2 separate regions of the Homo sapiens genome follow, and region 2 is linked to region 1. Evidence: fine-mapped expression QTL. A gene starts in region 1. The other region holds a variant in brackets. All regions are shown on one strand. Distances are between the middles of the regions. Region 1 holds the start of KLC1 (kinesin light chain 1). Region 2 overlaps KLC1 (kinesin light chain 1).

The links. PIP is the estimated chance that this variant, and not a neighbour inherited with it, causes the effect. A credible set is the group of variants that fine-mapping cannot tell apart.
Region 2: its variant is the best candidate, but not a certain one, in a credible set for the expression of KLC1 in whole blood (TOPMed, PIP 0.61).

The regions. Positions count from the first base shown.
Region 1 is chr14:103,626,147-103,631,519 of GRCh38, reverse strand. KLC1 (kinesin light chain 1) reads right to left here and starts at 2,309. Exons shown (of 17, transcript NM_001394837.1): 1 at 2,026-2,309. LOC105370688 (a long non-coding RNA gene) reads left to right here and starts at 2,377. Exons shown (of 3, transcript XR_944248.2): 1 at 2,377-2,488; 2 at 3,595-3,781; 3 at 3,980-4,018. RefSeq lists silencers at 1,562-1,741, 1,782-1,831, 1,922-2,041, 2,092-2,451, 2,542-2,741 and 1 more and an enhancer at 3,182-3,271.
Region 2 is chr14:103,672,303-103,677,675 of GRCh38, reverse strand. KLC1 (kinesin light chain 1) reads right to left here. Exons shown (of 17, transcript NM_001394837.1): 8 at 4,489-4,662; 9 at 4,245-4,344; 10 at 2,075-2,124; 11 at 1,920-1,987; 12 at 153-261. Among named protein-coding and RNA genes, the nearest start is that of XRCC3, 40 kb to the left of the region's middle. RefSeq lists an enhancer at 3,357-3,856. The variant T/C (reference allele first, on the strand shown) is at 3,406.

The DNA of each region.
Region 1 (5,373 bases):
TTTTTCTATCCTAGGTTTCTTTTTATACAAGTATGTTTTAAGATAATTTATGGCCCTATACAGAAAGTTACACATTGACTTTTTTCCAACATTGAGAAACATGCCTAAGAATGTATAAATTTTAAAAATGTATAAATTTGGGCCAGGTGCGGTGGCTCACGCCTGTAATCCCAGCACTTTGGGAGGCCGAGGTGGGCGGATCACGAGGTCAGGAGATCAAGACCAACCTGGCTAACATGTTGAAACCCCATCTCTACTAAAAATACAAAAAATTAACCGGGCGTGGTGGCGGGCGCCTGTGGTCCCAGCTACTCAGTAGGTTGAGGCAGGAGAATGGCGTGAACCCGGGAGGCGGAGCTTGCAGTGAGCCGAGATCGCGCCACTACACTCCAGCCCGGGCGACAGAGCGAGACTCCATCTCAAAAAAAAAAAAAATGTGTAAGTTTAAACGACTGCAGTTATTTGCTATGAAATACTGAAGATACTGTGTGCCTCTCCCCAGTGTCATTCCCTCCCCCCTTGCTGGAGATAAACGCTGTCCAGAGTCCTGTGCATGTCTGGATGCTTTTCTCTAAGACAATGCCAAGGCTGCAGTAGGGTTAGAGGTTACCACCTGGGTCCTCCACAGCACTCAGTGCCAGACAGGGCTGCCAGGCTCAACTGCAACATGATGCTGCATTCTTTGATGACTTGGAGAGACACTGGCTCTTTAGAGTGCCTACCCTCCCACACAGAATTCCATACAAGTTGAAATATACTTCATACTTAGTATCATTGTATTCCTACAAATATTTAGGAAACAGAGCAATAGGTCAAATTTCTCACCATAACAGGCTTGCTGACAATCCCTGAAAGAAGCAAGGCCATGTCTGTAATATAACTTCAGGAGGTTCTTCCAGTTTTCTAAAGTGTCTTTCACTAAACTAGTGCAATGTATTCCGAGCTGATTCTGATCAATGGCTTAGTCATGCCGTACCAAAAAAAAAGGCCTTGGGATTTAACTAATGCAAAGAATCAAAGCTCTAACTGCCCTTTTACAGAACACCTGAAATAGTATATCTCAAATTTTTTGTTCTCACATTTTTAAAAAACATCATTTTTGTAAGTATTCCTTTTCAAACGCTTAATATGTAAATTCTTAATTCATTTAAATAATAAAACAGTAACAGGCAGCAACAATTCTAATACAAATATACCTAGAAATGACCTACAAATGTTAAGTTATAAAACCATCCACTCCATCACGCATTAATTTCACTACTTTTACGCTTTATTTTAATTTTCTTAAGGAAAAGGGTACACCCAATTTTACATGGAAAAAGCATTCCAGGACGGAGGCTGCTTCAAGTTTAGTTGGAGCAACGCCAGCCTAGGTGAACAGGGTCGCCTGAAACGTTTCGCATCTGGTTACTGAAAATAAGGGGTCGCCAAGGAGGCAAAGCGGAGCCAGCTCTCGGGAGGGACCCGGCCCCCCGCCGCCCGCGAGAATGACAGGCGCGTCCGCTCAGGGCGGTGCCGGGAGAGGCGGGGGTGGAAGGAAGAGGAGGAATCGGACAAAGCCAGCCCCGCCGGGCCTCCGGCCTCCCCGCCCGCCGCGATCCCGGGGTCAGCCACCTCCCCTGTCGCGGGTTCCCGGGGTCCACAGCTGTCCCCGGGAACGGCCGCCGCCGCCCGCAGCAGGGCCAAGCCGGGGATGCGGGGCCAGGGCGGGGCCCTGGGCAGGGCCGGGGACCGGAACCTGCAGTGGGACGCGGATGGGGAGGACGCGCGGCGCCGGGAGCCGGGGCTGGCAAAAGGGCCGGGGACAAGAACCCGACCTGAACCTGGAAGGGGTCGCGGACCGGCCGGGGCGGTGAACTGGGGCGGGTACCGGGGTGGGAACGGAGAGGGGCCGGGACCCAAACCGGGAAGGAGGCCTGGATGGGGACAGAGTTACGGCCGGGGCGGGTCCGAAGAGGAGCGGGACAGGGACGGGGCGGAGGATGAGGAGGGGGCCGCGGTCCGGGGCGCACGCCGGGGACTCACCGCCTTGCTCCTGAGGGCCGCGCTCTCTCGCGCTGTCAGCACCTGGAGCGCCGCCGGGCGCGCGCGCGGAGCAGCGACTGTGCGCCGAGCCCGCCTCGGCTGTGTGAGGCACGGCGCAGCAGTCACCAGCTAGGGGCGCCGGAGCTACCGCCCCGCAGCATCCTCGGCCACCCACGCGCTGTCCCCTTGGCCGCCGAGCACAGCCCCGCGGCTCCTCGCACCAGCAGCCCAGCCGACCCAGCCAGTCCCGCTCGGCCGCCTGCGCCGCTCCCGCCGCCGAAAATGGCGTCTCAGTGTTGCTCCCCCCGGCGCCCCGCCTCGCCCCGCCCCACAATGCCGCGCGCCGGCATGACGTCATCGCCCCTCGCCCCGCCCGGGGCTGGGGAAACTGAGGCTGGGTGGCTCCCCGCAAGCGCTCGGCGAGCTGGGGACTGGAGGGGCGAGAAAGTTGTTTGGGTATCAGGTGGGCGGTCACAGGGAGGAGGGTGACGGTGCAGGACCCAGCGGGCCTCCCGGTTGTAACGCGGACGGGGGTGGGGCGCTCGGGGCAGGGCGCGGCTCGCGGGGTGGGCGGCCAGGCCCTGGCCTCTCCGACTCCGCAGCCGCGATGACCGAGCGCTTCGGCAGCTTCCCTTCCAGCCGGACTGTGGGCCCTACCAGAATGCGGCCGGGGACGGTGCAGGCCCGGCCGCAGCCGCCACCACTGGGCTCCCGCCCCACCCCACTCCCAGGCCCGCGAGCTTCATGCGCTCGTTTCGGTCCCCCCAAAACCCAGCTAGGAGGCCTTCGGGAGGCCCCGGAATCAGATGATCCCGGCCAGGCCTTTCTCCCTCCTCCAGGAAAACCGACAGCCTTTGGTCGAGACCCTGACCTCTAACCCTGCGCCCTCCCCTTCTCATTATTCCCTCTCCTCGGGGCTTTTGGACCCTCGTATCTGTACGAGGAAACTTTCCAGGCGCTCCCCCTCGACACAAACTGCGCCTCAGACGGGCAAAGGGGAAGGGCCGGGGTGTAGACTGTGAGGGTGGGAGACAACCCCCCTCTGTCCCCACGCAGCCACCGGCGCATCTCCCTGGCTGCAGGGCCTCGACCTCCAGCCCGGCCTGAAGGGCAGCGGAGCGCGCCTGGGTCAAGTCCTGCGGCTTCGCCGGCTCCGCAGGCCTGACTCAGCAGCCAGCCGGGAGGGCATGCTGATTCAATGGGCGAGGCTCCGCTCGCTGCTGCCAGCGGCTTGGGAAAAACCCTCCCAGTGCCTGCAGACGTCCCAAGTGCGGGGCCCGGAGGCATCATTTAACCTGGAGGGGTTCCTGGGCCAGTCCCCCAGCCCCATCTTGTGAACTGCTGTTCCTTTCCGATGTTATCACCCAGCACCAGCAGCCCTTTGTGAACCCTGCAGTTAGGCCCCGCAGTCACCAGAGAAGCAAGTGCTCCTCGGTTTTTCCAGGGAGGTCTGGTTACTTTTATCTCATTTATAAAGACAAAGGGGGAGCTCCTAGGTAACACGGTAGGGTTGGCCCGGGGAGAGGCACTGAGTCAGGGTCAAACAAACTTTCTCCATACCACTTTCAGGTTAGTGATTTCAGCCAGACTGCAGCTTGGATGTCACTAAGTTCAGCCACTGGGCTGGGCACCGCCAAGCATCGACTGCTCATTCTTTCTGTGCCGCTGCGCCCAGTAACTGTCCCCTCTGCTCACCCACAACCCTAGCCAGAAACCTGGGATGCCTGCACCGCTCCCTTACGCCCTACTACAACAGGTGGAAAAGATTCTACTTCCTCAATATTTCTTTGAGTTAGGGTATCTTTGTCACCCTGACTGGAGGGCAGTGGCAATCAGCTCACCGTAACCTCGAACTCCTGGGCTCAAGAGATCCTCTTGCCTCAGCCTCCCAAGTAGCTAGGGACTACAGGTGTGCACCACCACTCCCAGCTAATGTTTTTTAAATTTTTTGCAGAGAGGAGATCTTGCTATGTTGCCCAGACTGATCTCGAACTCCTGGCCACAAGTGATCCTCCCAGCTGGCCTCCCAAAGTGCTGAGATTACAGGTGTGAGCCACCATGCCCGGCCTCTCAGTATTTCTTGAATCCATCTCCACTGCCACCACTTTGTTCTGGCTTTATTACCTTGTTCTTTTATTTCCTCAATAAATATTTGTTGCTCTCCCATGATCCTCATAACAGCCAAGGATGCATAGGTGAACAAGATAGATAAGATCTCTGCTTTCTAAGAGTTTACATTCCAGTGAGGAGAAGTAGGCCATAAACACATAAGGAAATACCGGATCTTGCCGAGATGATGGAACAGGCAGAGATGGAACAAAGATGATGGAACAGGCAGAGTCTAGGTGGTCAGGGGTGAACTCAGAGGCAGGCGGGTGACCTGAGACCCAAATGAGAGGAGGGAGGCAGGCGTTCAAAGCCCCAGGAGAGGCCGGCGAGGTGGCTCACGCCTGTAATCCCAACACTTCAGGAGGCCGAGGCAGGTGGATTGCCTTCAGGAGTTCAAGACCAACCTGGGCAACACAGTGAAACCACATCTCTGCTAAAATACAACAAATTAGCCAGGCGTGGTGGCGCACGTCTGTAGTCCCAGCTACTCGGGAGGCTGAGGCAGGAGAATCGCTTGAACCTGGGAGGCAGAGGTTGCAGTGAGCCAAGATCACACCACTGCACTCAAGCCTGGGCAACAGAGCCACATTCTGTCTCAAAACAAAATAAATAAAAGCCCCAGGAGAGCTCTGAGGGCAGGAGTCCTCAGGCAGGAATGACCCTGGAGTGTTGGGGGAAAGGAGAAAAGGCCAATTCATCCACCAGTGCTGCCACGCATCACTGTCTGCAGCAACTTCAAATTCCTTGGGTTGGTCAACAAGGCCCCCAGGGCCTGGTGCTGCCAACCTCCTGGTCTCCTGTGCTCTGAACACCCTTATCTGTTCCTGAGTTCACCCTGGTCTCTCACATAGCCATGCCCCTGTACATAGTATTCACTGTGCCTAGAATGTTCTCCCTCCCCCATTCCCCCCAGTGCTCCAGGATTCAAATGATCGTCACTTCCTGGGGGAAGCCGCTTCTGACAGCACCTGCCTGGGTCAAGGCCTCCTCTGACCACCCACCTGTCCCTTCCCCAATGTGTAGTATGTGGTCAGCTTACACAGCTGCCTTCTCCTCAGCCTGTAAGCAGAGAACAGGAGGGGCTGGTGTCCTCTTCCCCACAGCCTGCTCAGCACCTGACGCAGCTGCAAGGGCAACCCTCAAGCAAGCATGAGAGGAGGGCTGGGCTGCTGCTTCTCCAGGCTTCCTTTGCACAGAGATGCTGCTCTTGCTCCCTTTTCAAGGGGAGCAGACTCTTCG
Region 2 (5,373 bases), 46 kb before region 1:
CATGCTCTTTTAAACAATATAACTTTATTTGTTCAAACTAAAATAATCAACATTTTCTATTTCTAAATCAAGCTTTCAATAAAATTCATGTAAAAGAGAAGCATTCAATTCAAAGTTCCCATGGGCCGGTTAAGGACAGAAGTATGACTAACCTGTTTACGAGACCTCATAGCAGCTTCTTCTAACGTTTCTGCAGCTTCAAATTTGCCTTGACGTCTGTAAAGTGCCCCAAGGTTTTTTAGAGTGGTTGTAACAGTTGGACTGTAAGAAAGCACATGACATACAGAACTATGACATATAAGCTCTGAACAACCACTATCAACAGCACATAATCTAAAGAACTAACAGACTTCTGTTTTGGCTTGAATATATTTTAACTTTCTCTTGTACTTTTCTGAAACTGTAAAATTGTAAAGCGTTCTTCCCTCTCAGGTAGCTCTACCTCCCATGACCCTGGCCCGTCCTGTAGACAGCCCCTGCAGGCCAGGCTAACACCACACTCCATCCAGGCTGAGGCGGCTCTCACAGACCACTGGCCACTCTGTCAACAGAAACATCTGGGCCAGGTCTGTGTGGTATCAGCATGCTTTCCCTGGAGACGACTTGGTCTGCGCTGACAGTAACGACGAACAGTGCTCTGAATGTTGCTGCTCACGTGCTGCCGTCTCCCCTCAAGTACCCGGGAGAAGACAGCAAAGCAGAACCTCCTTATCAGTGGGGTGTGAGGGCAGAGGATAAATGCTTCATGTACCAGGGAAGCAATAAGCAGATGGCCGAGAGGACGGCTGTGTTTCTGTGTTCTTTCTTTCTTTCTTATTTTTCAAACTGTATCATTGAGCTTGATGTTTCTGCATTCTTGATAGAGCAGACTTACTAAAAAAATTATAAATAAACCTAGATTCATTTTAGCATAGATAAGTACTTCGAGAGAGTTCTGTTCACTTACTTACAATAGGCATTTTGGGTACAGAAATAAAGAAGCTATTTTCTATGTCTCTGAAACAAGTAATCTATGGTAAGTGCTATGGGAGCCCTAGAGAGAGTTCAGAGAGTTTTCTGAAAATAGATGAATGGTAGGCTGAGTCTTAAAGGATGAGGAAAGTTAAGAGTGGAAAGACACAGTGGCTCACACCTGTAATCCCAGCACTTTGGGAGGCCGAGGCGGGTGGATCACCTGAGGTCAGGAGTTCAAAACCAGCCTGGCCAACACGGTGAAACTCTGTCTCTACTAAAAATACAAAAAATAGCCAGGCATGGCGACAGACTGTAGTCTCAGCTATTCGGGAGGCTGAGGCAGGAGAATCACTTGAACCTGGGAGGTGGAGGTTGCAGTGAGCCATGATCACGCCATTGCACTCCAGCCTGGGAGACAAGAGCGAAACTCCATCTCAAAAAAAAAAATAGAGTGGAAAGACAGCCAAACAGGTGAGCCACCTGGACCCAGGGACAGCAGCCATCACAGAGGGCAGTCTGCACAGGCTCGGGCTCAAGAGGCAAGGCTCTCGGGCCGGCCACGGAGGGGCCTACACTTCCCTCTGCAGAGGACAAGGCCCCATGGGCTGTGAGGAAAAGGAGTGTGTGTGGATCTGTGTCTCCAGCGCTGTGTGTGAGGGGCTGGCTTTCCCAGGCCTGCTGGCATGCTTCTCATGAATTTACTGTATGGTTTCTGCCATTAAAAGTAAAAGTAATGGCAAAATCGCAATTACCTTTGCACCAACCTAACATGATAGTGGGTTTTATACATGTAAGTGATCTCATTTACAAGGTTAGTGGGGTTTTTTTAATTGGAATTCGGGAAAAACATGGGACTGTGCACTTAAGGAACACTACACATTGGTCATTTATAAGCTGCCCTGTAGAACACAATTACCTTCCCCCTGCTTTTTGGTTTTTCCAGCCAAACGCAATTCCAGACATACCTATCAACTTTGCAGGCTTTGTACCAGCCGCCATACTCTCCAAAAGATGTCCCATCCTTTTGCTTTCCCTAAATTATAAGAAATAATTTCAAATGAATAATTATCTTGAATGCAGTATATACAATTTAGAAAATCTCAAAATAATAAATTCTTACTTTGCATTCTTCTCTTTCTTCAGCATGCATCCAGATGGGTTTATTTTCATCTAGGGAAGAAAACACAGCATACAGGTTGAGCATCCTTAATCCAAAACTCCAAAATCTGAACTGCTCTAAGGGGAATTTCCTTTGAGTGTCAAGTCGGCACTCGAAAAGTTTCAAACTTTGGAGCACTTTGAATAATGGGATATTTAACCTGTACTATAAATGAAGGATAACAGAGCCTGCTAAGTAAACTAGAAATCATGAAGCCTCTGTGGTTTTTTATTTTTTTGAGATGGAGTCTCACTCTGTTGCCCAGGCTGGAGTGCAGTGGTGTGATCCCGCCTCGCTGCAACCTCCAGCTCCTGGGTTCAAGTGACTCTCCTGCCTCAGCCTCTCAAGTAGCTGGGATTATAGGCACCCGCCACCACACCCAGCTAATTTTTTTGTATTTTTAGTAGAGATGGGGTTTCGTCATGTTGGCCAGGCTGGTCACTCCTGACTTCAAGTGATCCACCTGCCTCAGCCTCCCAGTGTTAGGATTACAGGCGTGAGCCACCGCGCCCAGCCTGTTTTCTTTTTTATATGATCCTTGTTAGATACTACTTCTTACAGCATGGACAGATTAGGTTCACACTGGAGGAAAAAGTCTATGGACGACAGAGCTGGACACCAAGCAACAGGTAAGACACAGGGTACAGAATCAATGTCCTGAGACAGGTGAGCAACTGTCAAGACACCCCAGCAAATGCTAGGGCCCTGGAATGTAATTTCTAAAATGCCAGCTGCTCAAGTAGCACAAGGGAGTATTCAGAATGTGAGCACTAAACAAAAACATTAAACAATAGTCTAAGAAAAAGTAGCAAGATGTTGCTAGCAAAAGTAGAAAAGATACAAATCAAGGCCGGGTGCAGTGGCTCACACCTGTAATCCCAGCACTTTGGGGGACTTAGGCAGGAGGATCACCTGAGGTCAGGAGTTCAAGACCAGTCTGGCCAACATGGTGAAAATCTGTCTCTACTACAAATACAAAAATTAGCCGGGCGTGGTGGTGTGTGCCTGTAATCCCAGCTACTCGGGAGGCTGAGGTAGGAGAATCACTTGAATCCAGGAGGCAGAGGTTGCAGTGAGCCAAGATCACATCATTGCACTCCAGCCTGGGCAACAAGAACGAAATTCCACCTCAAAAAAAAAAAAGAAAACAAGCATACGAATCAATATTCGTTTTAAGTCATCTTCTCGGAACACTCACGCAAGTTTCTAGACAACCAACAGACCCATGCTATGGAGGAAAAAGCCACCTTAAAAGTAATGTTTATGAAAATATTTTTATGACTGAAAGGTAC[T/C]CACACTAAAAATGTAAAGAAAATAAGCAGTATACATGATGATATGGACGGTATGGTTTGAAATCTGTAAACCAAAGGCACAGAAGGAAGGAAAGACATTAAAAATGTGAAAAGATGAATTTGGGTGATTCTCCTGTTTCCATTTCTGCATGAATTGGGTAGGTCTCTGCAATGAGGACATGAAGATGGATTTGGGTGATGCTCCTGTCTCCATTTCTGCGTGAACTGTATAGGTCTCTGCAATGAGGACATGTTATGGGCTCTGGGCACTGTAATCCCAGTCTAACTGCTTCTCAGCTACGGGGCCTCACACAAGTCACTTAGTCTGTGGTGTCTTTTTTTTTTTTTGAGACAGAGTCTCACTCTGTTGCCCAGGCTGGAGTGCAGTGGCACGATCTCGGCTCACTGCAAGATCCGCCTCCCGGGTTCACGCCATTCTCCTGCCTTAGCCTCCCGAGTAGCTGGGACTACAGGCGGCCGCCATCACACCCGGCTAAGTTTTTGTATTTTTAGTAGAGACGGGGTTTCACTGTGTTAGCCAGGATGGTCTCGATCGCCTGACCTCGTGATCCACCCACCTCGGCCTCCCAAAGTGCTGGAATTACAGGCGTGAGCCACCACGCCCGGCCTGTGGTATCCTTGCTTTTAAAATGGGGTAATGTTTGACCCGCTGCACAAGACTGCTGTGAAAGTGAAGTGAAATCACACATTTAAACTATTTAGCTTAGTGATGTACAAAGTTAAGTGCTTAATAAACAGTAACTAATACTATTAGTATATTACTATTAGTCAAGTCATTATACAATTAAATTCACTTGAAACGGGAGTATATTTCTTACCATCTACAGAACCAAACTCCCTTTCATGTGCACGAGTGAGAATCTCTTTGTACAGTGTTTCTGCTTGCTTGAACTTTCCTTGTTTCAAATAGCAGGATGCCTTAAAATAAAATAAAATAAAATATTTCATATCTTTCAGATGTAAATAAAGCATACATTTTAATCTCCAGTTAAATGAGAAAGTGTTTGGACTTGGGACGAAAGCACTCCTGGCCCCCTCCCTAGTGCTGTGCAGTCAACACACCAGGTTATTTTTCGTCTTAGCCACGTTGGGGTCATCAGGTCCCAGTTTTGTCTGGTAGATCTCGAGGGCTCTTTGATAATAATATTCTACTTCTTCATACTTGCCCTGGTTCTGGCACAGTAAGGCCAAGTTATTTAACTGCTTGGCAACATCGGGGTGATCCTTCCCCAAAACCTGAAAATAAAAAACAGCATATTAGAGACACTTGTTCTGCTTCCATCCAATCCATTCTCCACCCTACTGTCACATCAGGATCTTCCTCAACATAAGCACGACTGTGCTACACTTTCAGATTTAAATCCTTAACTGGCTCGCTACACCACGTAGTAATAAAATAACCAGAATTTCTCAAATTCTTATTCATGAGGGGAGGGAGGGAACTGTGCTCATCTTCTTTAGCTGTGTTAATTACTGTAGTAATCCTTCATGGTAGTTATATTTTTGTACATTGGTTGTACTATGTACAAATGTACACATTAGGCACATTTTGAAGATAAGGAAATGGGCTTTGTAAAGGCTATGTGAGTTTTACTGCCAGCTTCTGAAGAGCCCACAGCTGTCCCAGTTGCCCAGGATGCTCTTCTCCTAGCCCTCCCTACTAGCTACGACTTATCCTTCAGGGTTCTCCTCAGTTCCCCTCAAAGGAGACTTCCCTATACCACCCCACCTCACCTAGTGAACTCACAGGCACATCACCTGGTTGTTCTTTATAAGAATCACTTCTCTAAACTACCTTGAATATTTTTTATTACAATGTAAGCCCCAAGAGTATAAATTCTTTGTCTCTCTTCTTCACCAATGTAATCTCCGCATCGAAAAAGGGGTCTGGCACAGAGATAGATGAATGAACACTAACCTCCTCCCTCAGTACCTTGAACAAGTGAT